2 linked regions of the Homo sapiens genome follow. The protein of the gene in region 2 binds, or shares a complex with, the protein of the main gene of each other region. Each region holds a gene or a part of one and is shown on either strand. Other genes may lie near its edges.

Region 1 (7,032 bases), on a different chromosome or scaffold from region 2:
CTAATCTTTTATATTTTTAGTAGAGATGGGGTTTTGTCATGCTGGTCAGGCTGGTCTTGAACTCCTGACCTCAAGTGATCTGCTGGCCTCAGCCTCCCAAAGTGTTGGGATTACAGGCAGGAGCCACCACACCCAGCCCCACTGTGGGTTTTAACCATAGGGATCAACTCCTCCAAGAAAGTTTCCTCTGTTTTTTCCTCAATTCTGAGTCAGGTACCTTCCTCAGAGTCCCTACCATCATACCAGTATATTATGGCATTTACTCACTGGCTCCTGAGGAGTCTACAAAACTCCTAGAAGCAGAGATTGCATCATGAGTTCCCAGCTCAAAATACAGTGTTGGCGGCGGGGCGCTGTGGCTCACGCTTGTAATCTCAGCACTTTGGGAGGCTGAGGCAGGTGGATCACGAGGTCAGGAGATCGAGACCATCCTGGCTAACACGGTGAAACACCGTCTCTACTAAAAATACAAAAAATTAGCCGGGCGTCGTGGCGGGCACCTGTAGTCCCAGCTACTTGGGAGGCTGAGGCAGGAGAATGGCGTGAACCCGGGAGGGGGAGCTTGCAGTGAGCCGAGATCACATCACTGCACTCCAGTCTGGGCAACAGAGAGAGACTCCGTCTCAAAAAAGAAAAAAAAAATACAGTGTTGGCTTTCAGTAGATACTATGAGTATGCCCTTAGTAAATGCTTGTTTAATAAGGTAAGGGGAAAGATGAGAGCTCTCAGAGACCTTTGGCAGGGAGCACTGTTCCCAACAGTGGATTTCTGCATGGGTGCCCTTTGCTAGTGTGGCCACTGACTTTCCTTCCTCTGTTACTGGGCCAGCTCCTTCAAGGCCTCTCCCTAGATGGGGCCATCTCAGGCCCCACCAACAGTTCGGGAGTCCGAGGGAACACTCGCCCCCACCCACTCTATCTCCAGGTCAATCAACCCACAAGCACAGTTATGGAAGGGGACCATTCTAGGTGTGACCTAGACCTGGGGTTTTAAAATCCTGCACTTTGAGCCGCCACATGGTTCCAGGGCAATGATGAGATGTTTCTGGGATTTTGCCAACAAAGAAGTATCCAACTACGTGGGGAATCTTGAGGTGATTTACATATTAGCTCTTTGAGTTTGCTGTTGAATAGATCTTTGTGCTGCTACAGTTTGAAGCCTGAAATGGACACTCCTAGGCTTGCAGTTGAGAGTGTGAATTGCTACCATGTTTGGGGAGGTAATCTGGCCATGATTTCTCCGAGGCGACGCAGTCAAGTGATTCTCCTTCCATCTCCTTTCCATCGCCCTGTTATTTCTCATATAGGAATTACTACCTGTGTTCTCGGGGCTCCATGGCGATTTAAGTTTTTCTTTTAAAGATCATTGATCAAGTTTGAAAAACTCTGCATTTCACTATTTATTAAAGGTCTTATCCGTGTGAGGTGCCAGGGAGTGGGGAATAACAGCAAAAAAGACGAAATAATGCTTAGAGACTAAAATTTGTGATGACAGTTGGGAAGAAGAACTGGCACACCTGAACCAATGACAAGTAAGTTGAAAACTGGATTGTATTAGGTTGCTGCAAAAGTAATTGTGGTTTTTGCAATTAAAATACTAACTTTGAATACAGCAGTTTCTCAGCAGGAGGCAGGTGAGCCAGAACCTTCCTTACCAGGGAGGAGGTGGCTGTGAACTGAACCTTGAAGTTGAACCTGAGGAGGGTATGAAGGGAGTCAGCGAAGCAGGAGCCAAGTTCATGGCTCCAAGATGCAAGCTGAGAGCTGAGGAGACAGGGCTCTCTCTTCCAAGAACCTTAGCCAGAGCCTGTTGCCTCCTTATGCTGGGTTTGGCCAGCCACCCAGACCAAACAGAGGTGGTGCATAAAAAATGGGAGGTTTTCAACCTCTCACCTCTCACCACTGCCTCCAGCCAGCGTGCAAATTAGCCTCCAGATCCCTCCTCCCAGGGTTGGAGAAGTTGATGGGGATGTGTCAGCTACAGTCGAGCATAGCTGGTGAGCTTACGGCTAGTTAGCTCCTTTTGCCATTTGGCAAAGCCCTCTGTTTTGCTGCAGTTTTCATCCTGTGTCTCTCACACTGGTTTTTTGTTTGTTTTTTAGAGACAAGATCTTGCTGTTTCTCTCAGGATGGAGTGCAGTGATGTGATCACGGCTCAGCTTACTGCAATCTTGACCTCCTAAGCTCAAGTGATCCCCAGTCCTCTCTCCTCAGACTCCCAAGTAGCTGGGACCACAAGTGCATACCAACACACCTGGCTAATTGTTTTTAATTTTTGTAGAAATAAGGTCTCGCTATGTTGCTCAGGCTGGTCTTGAACCCCTGGCCTCAAGTGATCCTCCCACTTTGGCTTCCCAGAGTGTTGGGATTCTAGGTGTGAGCCACCGCATCCAGCCTCACACTGTTGCTTCCTGCTGGACACTGACTTCCACCATCCCTAGACTTCCTTAATGGTGATTTCAATAGCGCTTTTTACTTGTACAGGACTTTACACTTTAAAAAGTGGAATAAAATTATTATTATTATTATTTACACCTCACAACAACTCTGTGAGAAGATTCCCTTTGCCATTTGGCAGATGAGGAAACCAAGTGCGCCTTTGAAAGTTGAAGGAGGGCTGGGCACGGTGGCTCATGCCTGTATTCCTAGCACTTTGGGAGACTGAGGTGGGCTTATCATCTGAGGTCAGGAGTTCAAGACCAGCCTGGCCACCATGATGAAGCCCTGTCTCTACTAAAACTACAAAAATGAGCCAGGTGTGGTGGTGCACGCCTGTAGTTCCAGCTACTTGGGAGGCTGAGACAGGAGAATCTCTTGAACCCGGGAGGTGGAGGTTGCAGTGAGTGGAGATCACACTGCTGCACTCCAGGCTGGGTGACAGAGCAAGACTTTGTCTCAAAAAATAAATAAAAAACAAAAAAAAAGAAAGGTGAAAGAGTTTATGCAAGATTTTTAAGAGGAATGCTGAGATATGAACACCAGCTGTTCTGAGTCCCAATGTTGGGCTGTAACTACCAAGTCATTGGGGTTCACCAATTAAATGGATTTAGGCTCATCGAATTGTTGGCAAGTGTTTAATATGCAGGAAAAAGAGATTTTTAAAATTATAAGAATGCAGTTACTTTTGTATTTATTGTAATTCAAGCATGATGAGGGCATTCGAATCTTCCTCAGTTTTTCTGTGCTCACTTCACCCCCCATCTCCCTTTTCCCTAAGTGCTTGTGATGCATATATGTTAAGCTCAATAAACAATAAACTAGGGCCTGGCGTGATGGCTCATGCCTGTAATCCCAGCAATTTAGGAGGCCAAGGTGAGCCGATCACCAGAGGTCAGGAGTTCCAGACAAGCCTGGTCAACATGGCGAAATCCCATCTCTATTAAAAATACAAAAAATTAGCTGGGCATGGTGGTGCACGCCTGTAGTCCCAGCTACTCAGGAGGCTGAGGCGGGAGAATTGCTTGAACCCGGGAGGCGGAGGTTATAGTGAGCTGAGATCGCACCACTGCACTGCAACCTAGGCTAAAAAGCGAGACTCTGTCTCAAAAACAAACAAACAAACAAACAAACACAATAAAGTAGGATGTAGCTAGGATAATGGAATGTCTACTTGGCATTTGCTTTAGAGAATGAAATTTATCATATGTCAGTTCTTTCTTTATAGCTTGTCAATTCAAAAGGTTTAGTCCACTCCATGTTGAAATTAGAGCAAATGTTGCCTCCACAGAATTTGAATTAATGACATTTCATTGGAATACCAACCTTAATTGCATAATATATTTCAGTGTTTCCACCTTGTCCATGAGCAAGTACGTTCTGAACTAAAATGGGATAGCAGTCTCTTCACTGGTAGCTCAAGCAATTTGTGGAAACCAGACTTCAGGGGCAATCACACATGGAGGCTGCCCCCAGGGGAGAAGAGAATTGGATGGAGCATCGTGGGAAGGAGGGGAGCGAAGGGAGGCGGAAGACGGAGACAGAAGACAAGCAGAGAGGGAATGTGTGTGTTAGCTAACAGCTAAAGCTAATTGATCTAATCAATCCAGCAGAGAGGTGATTTTTCTTACTAAGTGACAGGCCAAATCGGTGTCTGAACAGATGTGATGTGGGTTGCGTCCAGCACCTGGAACAAAGACAGCAAAGAGCTGCCCCATGGAGATCGCCAATAGATGTGCTTCATGTCAGTTAATCATTGTGGGAGAAGATAGGGCTGCCTTCAGGCCAGTGCCAGAGCACATGCACACACATGCACACACGCACACATACACACATACACACGCACACACACGTATCCATTTCATTCATCCACTCTCATTGTCTCTCCCTCTGAGACGTGCTTTCTTGTGATACCCAAACTCACAAGCCCAAGTACATCACATTACACAAATCTTCAGAGACTCCCAAGATGTCAGGACCCGGGAGATCCACACCTCTGCCTACCTGGGCTGGCCAATCTGTGGCATGGTCTGAGGTGAGCTCAGACAGCCCCCTCCCCGATGCCATGCCTGGGGCAGTCTTTAGGTGGCCACGAACCCATTAGAGTTACAGATCCTCTGGAGGAAGAGGATGGGCCAGTCTAGGTGAGACTTTCAGCCTAAGAGGGGTACAAGAACTGGGGCCCCTCAAGGAGGTTGAAAGTGGAGGTGAGATGGGGTTGGGAGTGGGCATTGTTCTCAAACCCTCCCATTCCTGTGCATGAATCTGACCTCACAGAATAACCTCTCAGGTGGCTGAGGCCATCCCCGCCCAAGGCATCAGGGCAGGGCTGTGCACTTGGCTCCCTGGCCTGTTGGCTTGGGGGACATTTTCACTCTTCTTGCTGCTGCAGAGCCATTTGCTGCTAAATCACCCTCCTCTTGGCACCATGGACTGCTAAATTGGTCTCAACTTGCTGTACTTCCACCCACCACCTTAGTCATTATTCGCTGGCAGCATTCAGAGAGTGGGTGTAAGGCAGCCGAACATTATATTCCTGCTGTAAAGAGGGAGAATTGAGTATAGACATGCAAGGAGAGGGGAGAGAGGGAAGGAGGGAAGACAGCGTGAAGGAGGCAGGGAAACAAGGCCTGGGGTTTGCCAGCACCTTTCCCTGGTGACCCCAGTGACACTGGATTGGGGGGGCATTATAGGTGAGTGGGTCCTGGCTCAGTGGGAGGAGACAGAGGGGTCCACCTGCTACTGAGTGTCTTCCCACCCCTGGTCTGGAGGCAGGAAAGGACATTAGCCATGGGAAGAGAAGGGTTCTGCCCTCTGTGAACTCCCTGTTCCTTGAATTCTACAGTGTATAACGTACTTGTCACTCCCATTTGAGCACTTGTTCCCATGTATTCATATTTAGCTTTTTATCTCTATCCTCCCTCCCAGCATAGGTTATAAGCCCCTTGAAAGAGAATGTGTGTCCCGCATCTGATATATAGCACCAGGCCTTAGGAATGGTCTAGGGCTCGGTCCCAAATGGCAGAGATGGATGGCGCTAAGGCCCACAGTGCTTCTTTCTACCCAGCCACTTCAGATCTCTCTGTGCCACTCAAGGGCCACAGAAATTGGAAAGCCAGGCAAGCAAGAGGAGATGGAATCACAAGGGAATCTACAGGGCTTGGTCTGCAATCTCAGTGGGAAACTCCAGGGAGGGAAAGGGTTACACTGCAGAACAGACCAGCCAGGAAAGCAGAAACTTAAGAGACCTGTGGTCCTTGTGCAGAAGGCTGGGGGTGATCTCCACCTGGCACATGGGCTCTCCTGATAGCTCATCCATTGCCCAATGCCCAGGCATGGTGCCGGGGCTGGCAGGAGGTAGGAAGCAGAATCGGTTCTCACATCGGGCAGCAGTGACAGCGTCAGGCAGGGCAGACTGACCTTGACAGGAGGCTCCCTGAGTCACTGATAACATTTGTTTGGGCACCCAGGGAGAGGTTAGAAAGGGAACTCATGCCATCCCAAGCTGGCTTGGGACCTCTTGGGGCCCCCAACCCAGGCTCCTTGCCTCCCACACTCTGCTTGGGGGAGATAATAGGAAAATGCCAAGAACAGAAGCCTCCCTAGCTAGGGAGATGGGGAGACTCTTGAGGGATATGGGGATGAGCCCTGAGGCTGCCCTTGACCTTCCAGAGAGGCAGCCCCATGCCTGGTGTCTGTAGGTACCTGTGTGGGGTCTGCCCTCCCCTCTGTCTCCCATGGTCATCCCCAGCAGAGGTCCAGAAGGACAATCTACACACTCAGGGTAGCTTCCCTTATTTATTGCAACCTTCAGACACTCCAGCTTGAGCTCTTCCCTGCTCCCCGCCACCCCCAAAGGGCATTTCCACAGTGCAAGGGGAGGAGGGAGGGAAGCATGGACTGGACAGCGCACACATCTTGAGGAGACAGCCTCCCCCTCCTTGCCTATCAAATTCCCCCAGCCCCAACGCCTCCGTGGCCCCAGCAGACAAACCACACTGCAGGCAGGTGGGGAAAATGAGAGGAGCCAGGCGGAGCCCCCAGCCTCCACCTGCACTGTAAAGCGAGCCGGCCCCTGAAGGAGGCCTGGGAAGGACTCCCCAGCTGCCTTCGGCTCCTCCCCTTGCCAGGCCCGCAGCTGGCCCTGCTCAAAGGCTGTGCAGCCGGCTGGTGGCTGGTGGGGCAGGTGTGGGCAGGATGCGTGGCTATTCCCAAGACAGGATTTCTTCATCTATCAAACTAGAAGCACCAGGCATTTGGCTTCTCTGGGCTTCCACCAGTACCTCGGACATCTGTTGACTTAGAAACTTTTTCTTGATGTTGGACTTACTTCTATTCTAGAGCCGCAGACAGGACCTCCAACTCTAGGGTCCTAAGATTTGTCAGGACACAAAAGAGCCTGTGCTGAAAAAACTTCAGATACTCTACATGCAAACACAACACCTCAGGGTTGAAAGGATGCTTAAAAACCACTCTATCCATATCCTCTCCCTGTCTCCCCTACACACACACAAATACTCACTGCCAAGAACTTTTATTTCACACCTCAGGAACCCAGTTCTTTCCATTTTCTTTTTTCTTTTTATTTTATTTATTT
Region 2 (6,917 bases):
ATTTCTCTACCCAGCCCCATCGCCTTTTCTGCCAGGTACAGCTGAACTAAGTTGGGCTAACAAGGCAAATGATGGGCTCCAAACTGTGCTGCATCTGTCTTTATGGTGGCCCTCTTTATTACACCAAGATCCCCAGACACAACCTGCTGGCCCAGAACACTGCCTGCTGCCAACTAGAGCATAACCTGCTCATTCTCTCCACCACCAAGTGCTTTATGGGCCAGGACACAGCCTCCTGGGCAGTGGTCCTTGACCTTGGAATCTGACCTTGACACTGACATCACTGGAACATTAGGAAAAACCCATGAGCCTTGGACTCCCTAGAGACCAGCTAAATCAGAATTGCTGCAGTGGTGCTGGGGCATTTTTCCAATGACAAAGTCTCTTTCTACTCAAGAAATAAACTCAATTCTGATTGAGTCAGGGTTTCATGAATCAAGCTTCATGAATACTTATCCCAAATTATTTCACTTATATGTTGTAAGATGTTCCCATTTTTGTGAGTTTTATATTATTAACTAAGTTAATGGGAAATGAAGTGTATCTGTTAAAACCTAATCAATATTAACTTGTTATAAATATTCCGCAATCTAAACTGCTTTTACATCATTGAAAAGTTATAAAAATTAGCAAATCTGATAGCACCAATTCAATAAAGCAATTTAAAATTACCTAGTAGCACATTCTGTGAAACTTTGACAATATGATGTTACTTGGCTATGATATAATCATGTACTTCAATCATTTGAAAATGGTTGTTTAACTCAAAGGCAGGATTTTTAATGAAAAACAAATGGCCAGAAATACAAAGAACTAGGAATTAGGAGACAACTCTGTTTCTAGGCTCTTCACCAACAAGTTCTTAGGCCCCCATCTCTCTACTTAACTATCATTTAGCAAATACACCATATGAATTGCATGGGTGCCGAGTCTGCTATAAGAATGAATATGTTCTCCACAACAATTTACATATTTATTCATTTCTCTCTCCCTCTTTTTCCTTCTTTTTGGGAGTTCAAAACTTCTTGACTCTATAATTAGTAAATGTTATAAAACTGAACTTGTACATTATATTTGAACTGTTAAAAAGCAAAATTTGAGGCTGGGTGCAGTGGCTCACACCTGTAATCCCAGCACTCTGGGAGGCCGAGGCGGGTGGATCACCTGAGGTCAGAGGTTCGAGACCAGCCTGGCCAACGTGGTAAAACCCCATCTCCACTAAAAATACAAAAATTAGCTGGGTGTGGTGGAGTGTGTCTGTAGTCCCAGGTACTCAGGAGGCTGGGACAGGAGAACTGCTTGAACCTGGGAGGCGGAGGTTGCAGTGAGCCAAGCTCGCACCACTGTACTCCAGCCTGGGCGACAGAGGGAGACTCCATCTCAAAAACAAAAACAAACAAAATTTGAACAAATTTAAAGATGTAAATGGCTTTTATTAGCAATTTATGAATCTGGCAGCATCTCAACTAAAAATTTAGAAACGGTGTTCTGATTAGCTGAGCAGAGGTGGGCTGAAAACGGTTGAAGAAGCAAAAAGAGAATAAAAGACAGATTGGTCATTTCAAAGTTAAACTTTCCTCACAGAGACCAAATGGAGGAGAGACTTCTTTATCATGCTGGCTCAGGTAAATCAGGCCTCCTTGACTCCTTGCTGTGTATCTTCTGGATTTTTTGACAACTGGCCCATTTCTAAGTTGTTTGATTATGTGACACCTAGCACCAGCAACTCCATTCTGATTTGGCCTGGTCTGTTGGGCCTAGTGCAGGGGTTTAATCTAAAACAATGGCTTCCTATACATTTCATTTAACAATACTAATAAAATACCGCTTTTATTTTATTTGTTTACATTGGAGTCCTGCTGTTAAGCAAAAAAAAAAAAAAAAAAAACAGGGAGAAATCATGGTAGAATCGAAAGACCGAAAGCTACTAAAAATTGATAGCATTTAATAGTCCTGAATAAGTTGTTTCTAATTATAATTCAGCTACTAATTTCAAGAAGAAATGGAAATTTAGAAAGTTGAAATTATGAAATATGATTGCTGGGAAGTATAATGGGACAAAAATTAAAAAGCTGAATCTATCTTCACTGCCACTACTGCACTTCTACTCTGGACAACTGCAACCGATCCCTTCCAAAGTGGTTGTATCCAGGCCCACCCTACACCCACTTCCTTCTGAAAAACCAATCCACTTTCCTTAGGATACAGTCCAAACTCCTAAACAAGGCTTACCAAGGCCCTTCAAGATCTGACTCTCGGCGTCTTCTCATCTCTATGCCCCACTCCCCAGTCTCATTACCAGTCATTTTCCTACCACTCTGCTTCAGCTACCCTAGCCTTCTTTCTGGCAGTTCCTGTAAACAGCAAAGCATATTCTAGCATCAGAGGCTTTGCATTTCTAATTCTCTCTGCTGGCAAAATTCTCTCCCTAGATCTTGGCATGGCTGGCTCTTTGTCATTCAGATCCCTGCTCAAATGTCACTTCCTCAGAGACCTTTCCTATCTGTCTTAGTCCGTTTCCTGTTGCTTATAAAATAATTCCTAAAACTCGGTAATTTATAAAGAAAAGTAATTTATTGTCTAGTTTTGGAGGCTGGGAAGTCTAAGACTGACGGACCACGAGACAGCACCGCAAAGTATCACGTGGCCAGGGGGCTGAGCAGGCTCACGAGTTGTCAAGTCTCTCCTTAAAAAGCCACCAGTTCTACCTCCGTGATAACCCATTAATCCATGAATAGATCAATCCACTCGTGAAGACAGAACCCTCACGGTCCAACCACCTCTTAAAGACTCTACCTCTCAGTACTGCCACATTGGGGATTAAATTTCAACATGAGTTTTGAAGGGGACAGATATTCACACCATAGCACTACCTATCTAATACAGCCCATCACGTCCTGGTCAAAATCGATTCCACCATTCTGCTTGATTTTCCTCATATAACCCATCCCTATCTGATAATTTTGTGTTTGTTTCCCCGAAATCACTATCTTGTTCACTGTTGTCTCCCCAGGGACTAGAACAGTGGCCAGTAAACACTTGCTAATGAATAAAGTGCTTAACAAACGTGTCTTGATCAGTCTATCTCGCGTTTTCCCCACGACCCCTCTCCATTCATTCACAGGAACCCGCCAACGTTGCTATCCTTTCAGGAAGGTCCTTGGATCGTCATCGCTATCCCAAAGAGAGTCCGTTCTCCCACTTCAGGCGAGGCATTGCCAGCCTGGAAGCTAACGGGGTCTCAAGGACCGACAGCCGCGCCAAGACCGGGCACTTGCGTCTGACAAGCGCTGAACAGGGGCGGAGAAACAAGGCACCCCTCTACTCGCTTCCTGGAGCCTGCCGCCCTCCCAACCTTAAGCCCTGAACCAGGCTCTCATTTGGCCGCACTCGTGCCTCCCCTGCTGCCAGCACGGCGGCCGGTCCCGGTTACCTGCCTGGGATCTGGCTCAGGCGAACTCTCTTCACACCGCCATTTGAGGGAACACAAATGCCCGCTCTGGGCCACCGTAGTTCACAGAAAGTACAAGCTGGCACCTCCTCCCGCATGCGCAGAGACCGCCTTCGGCGAATAGTGTCTCTTAGCAACGGCTTTGAGTCCCTCCGCCAGGGGCGGAGCCTCGGAAGCCACCACGGGGAAGCTGTAAGGGGAAGTGAGTGAGACCAATCGGAGACGAATCTCTGCCCCGTTCGGCACGCCTCCCTTAACTGTCGCGAATGCAAAGGCAACTTTACGGCAGGCAGAGGGTGGGGGCTGCCGGGGGTAAGGAGGAGAGAAGGAAGCAACCAACCAACCAAGTCGTCCCTACTCCCTCCACCCCCACCCATCCCGGACCTGGTTTACGGCTCCAGGCTCAGGCTCCACTGCGGGCGCTGATTGGTTGTTGAAGGCTTGGTCCCATCCCAGTGACCCCAAAGTGCTGAAGGGAGGGGGCGGGGGTGGCCCAGTGCAAAGTGCATCCCGAAAGCCCCCTGTCCGGAGACCCCACGGCTGGCACTTCGGGCCCCGTATGACCTGGGACCTCGCCGTCCCGAGACCTCCTGGGTCCCTCCGTAGCTGGAAGCCTCCGGCCCGGAGCGCGGCAGCCCCCTGCTCCGAGCCCTGGACCGGGACTGCCCCCCCACCCGAGCCAGGACTTCCTCCCTGCCTCCCTGCACCTCTGCCCCAAGGCTGCCCGGCGGCCGGGATCGCCACCTCCTGCCTTCTCGGCTGTTCGGATGTTCGCCGGGCTGGGGCCGTGAGGCACCGAGGAGGATCAGGAACACCAGGGTCCGGCCCTGCCTGGGGTATTTCTTCAATGGAGAAGTTGGTGAGTGTAGAGGAGGCTGAAAGGAGGAAGAGAAGCAGCAGCTGAGGAGACAGGTAAAGTCCTTTACTTCCCCCGAGGGGAAGAGTGCTGGCTGGGAGGGTAGGAGGGAGGAAAATCTCTGCTTTTTCTTGCCTGCCCTTGCCACTCTCCAGCCCCTTTCCTGAGCTCCCCCCTCCCCACCTCTGAGACACTACACCACTCACTGGTTTCTGTTTTTCTAGGTTTGAGCTGGCTGAAGAAGACGCGAAAGCAGGAAGAGGTCTGCCCACCTATCAGAGAAGCAGAAGGCACAGTGCCTCTGACCAGCATCGTCTGTAAAGGTAATGAGCCAGCCCTCCCCTCCCCCGTTGTTTATTCCTGGCCCCTACCTCATTAAGCAGTGGTTTATTTTCAGGGTGGTTGCCTGGGAATGCAACCTTTCCTACCCCCCCCACCCCCACCCCCAGTTTCCCAGGAAAAACAAAAACATTACCCGTGCCTGATACTTAACATTTTATAACTTCTCTACCCAGGACAGTATTTTCCCACTTTCTTTCTGTACAGTGTGTTTCTGTGTTTTTCATTATCTTTTGGTACACTGTGCCATTTACTCTGCTCTGAGGCTTTGAGACCTTTTTGTAGCTACCCTCCCTTCCTTACTCTCATAGGAATTCCTCAATTCCTTGTTAATTGCTTGTTAATTCTGAATGACTTTCCTTTTTAATTAAACCACAATTTACTGTTTTCCCCCTTACTCTTTCCTATCACCTTTCTTCTACCTGCATCAGAAAAATCTTTTGAGTTATCTAACTGACAACGATTTGGTAGAGAAAGGTAAATTATTGGCCTGAGATTTATGAGTTTCAGAAAATAGTTTGATTTTATTTCCTACTAGAAAGCCAACCTGTGTACCTTAAGAGTGTGAATGGTATGAAGACAACATTATTACCCTGAAGCACTTAGGCATAATTAACTCTTTGGGCTTTCTGTGTGTTTGTGTGTGACAAATGTGGATGGGCTTTGAAACTTATAAAGATACAATGTTTCTTACACCTCAGATTTTCTAGGAGAACTTTTAAAAATTTGCACAATATCTTATTAATCGTTTGACTCAGGAATTTAAAAACAAAGGAACCTTTTGGTGTGTTTACATATCTGGGTCTTAATTTTAGCACTCTATAAAAAAGATTTCTCATTTTAAAACTTTTACGTAGAGTTTGCTGGATTGAAATTTAAGCATCTAATTCATGTGATCACATTTCTGCTGCCATATTTTGTTGCTGCTTCTGAAAATGCTCTGAAAGTAAACTTAGGACATTAGTGTAATTCCTAAAGGGGGGATATAAGCATGGAAATTATACAAGGTTTAATTCCAAAATTAGCCAAATGGATGACTTTTTTAACATCCAGTAGCAAAAGTATAAAGTGACTTGTTAATCTGAGTTATTTTAATATCCCAAATTGTTTAGGGAATTTTTGTTACAAGGAAGTGCTTAAAATAGCAGAAGTTAATATTTTTGATTTCCTATGTTCCACTGGACTTTCTGCCCTCCACAAAAAGAAATTAGTATCTTTACTGATTCTGTTAATTCTTAAGACATAGCTAAAGAGATAAAGACATAGCTTTTAAGGGGATCTGAGGTATGCATATTCTTGAGACATGGAACTGCATGCCAAAAGAAGAGATTCTAGGGAATAGGATTTAGAATCAGTATCTACCAATGACTGTTCCCTGTTGAAAACTTAGGGCAGCTTTTGTATGTATATGTAGGGAATCAGGAGTACTAGACTACATCATTTCAGTAAAAGCTACCCGGAAATCTTTAAAGGCTAATTTTTATTATGTAAGTATGGAAGTTGTCAGGGAGATGGCCTAATGATTACTTCAGAACTTTTAAAAAATGCTAAAATATTTGAAGTATGTTCTAAAGATCAAAATGAAGTACTGTGTTTTGTATTCAAGCCTCTCAGTTAAATATTTTTTCAGCTTTACATGTAACTCTAGGACGCTTTCATTTCTAAAGAGTAGTTTCACCTGAGATGGTAAAGGGAAGGAGTCTGTGGCTAGTCCAGCACATAAGGTAAGAGAGGATAAGTCTTTACTCTGGCTCTCAGCCAGTTCATTCTCATTGCTTAAATCGTATTTCATGGATCATCTCATTTTTTAATAGTTTTTCTAAGATTAGGGAATATGTGTAAATTGTCAACATCTGTCATGTTTCTAATATCAGAATGACTGAGAGTATTTGGTCTAGATTATACCAGGCATTTAGAATATTTAATTTGGGTATTTATTTACCAACATGGCTAGTTAGGTAGCTTACATTTTTTAACCTGGCAGTTAGCTTTGTATTAATTCTATTGCCAATCATGTGGCTTAAAAAAAATCCAATTTATTTCGTCACCAAATATAGATTTATAATCACGTAGGGAGAATAATTGATTTTAATTGAAGATATGCAATGATGCATCTTTAGTATACTGTGGCCAGTACTTACATTCTTTACACATAAAGTGATGTCATTTACAATTAGTTAATACTATGACACATACAGTATCTCTTTAATTTGTTCACGTTTAACTTTGGTGACATAGAGATACACACCATCCCTAAAAAGTCTAAAGCCA

The links. Proteins that work in one complex are often made in the same cells at the same time.
Region 1: the proteins of ASB7 (region 2) and LZTS1 are in contact, whole or in part, in a crystal structure (PDB 8Y1U), measured with the Homo sapiens proteins. Residues at the interface, in NP_937886.1 of Homo sapiens: Asn46, Trp48, Ala56, Ile79, Phe82, Tyr87, Met90, His91, Asp116, Trp118, Val123, His126, Tyr127, Ser147, Lys149, Thr151, Gln155, Leu156, Ile159, Arg160, Phe182, Arg185, Tyr186, Ile189, Lys190, Arg210, Leu220, Leu223; in NP_001349813.1 of Homo sapiens: Arg346, Glu348, Leu349, Leu352, Met353, Glu355, Gln356, Leu358, Leu359, Glu360, Lys362, Leu363, Arg364, Ser365, Tyr366.

Annotation. Positions count from the first base shown.
Region 1 is NC_000008.11:20,293,944-20,300,975, reverse strand, and holds part of LZTS1 (leucine zipper putative tumor suppressor 1), read left to right. Parts: intron 1-7,032. UniProt on the Homo sapiens protein: Involved in the regulation of cell growth. May stabilize the active CDC2-cyclin B1 complex and thereby contribute to the regulation of the cell cycle and the prevention of uncontrolled cell proliferation. May act as a tumor suppressor.
Region 2 is NC_000015.10:100,598,684-100,605,600, forward strand, and holds the start of ASB7 (ankyrin repeat and SOCS box protein 7), read left to right. Parts: upstream 1-3,905; 5' UTR 3,906-4,363; intron 4,364-4,531; 5' UTR 4,532-4,630; intron 4,631-6,917. UniProt on the Homo sapiens protein: Probable substrate-recognition component of a SCF-like ECS (Elongin-Cullin-SOCS-box protein) E3 ubiquitin-protein ligase complex which mediates the ubiquitination and subsequent proteasomal degradation of target proteins.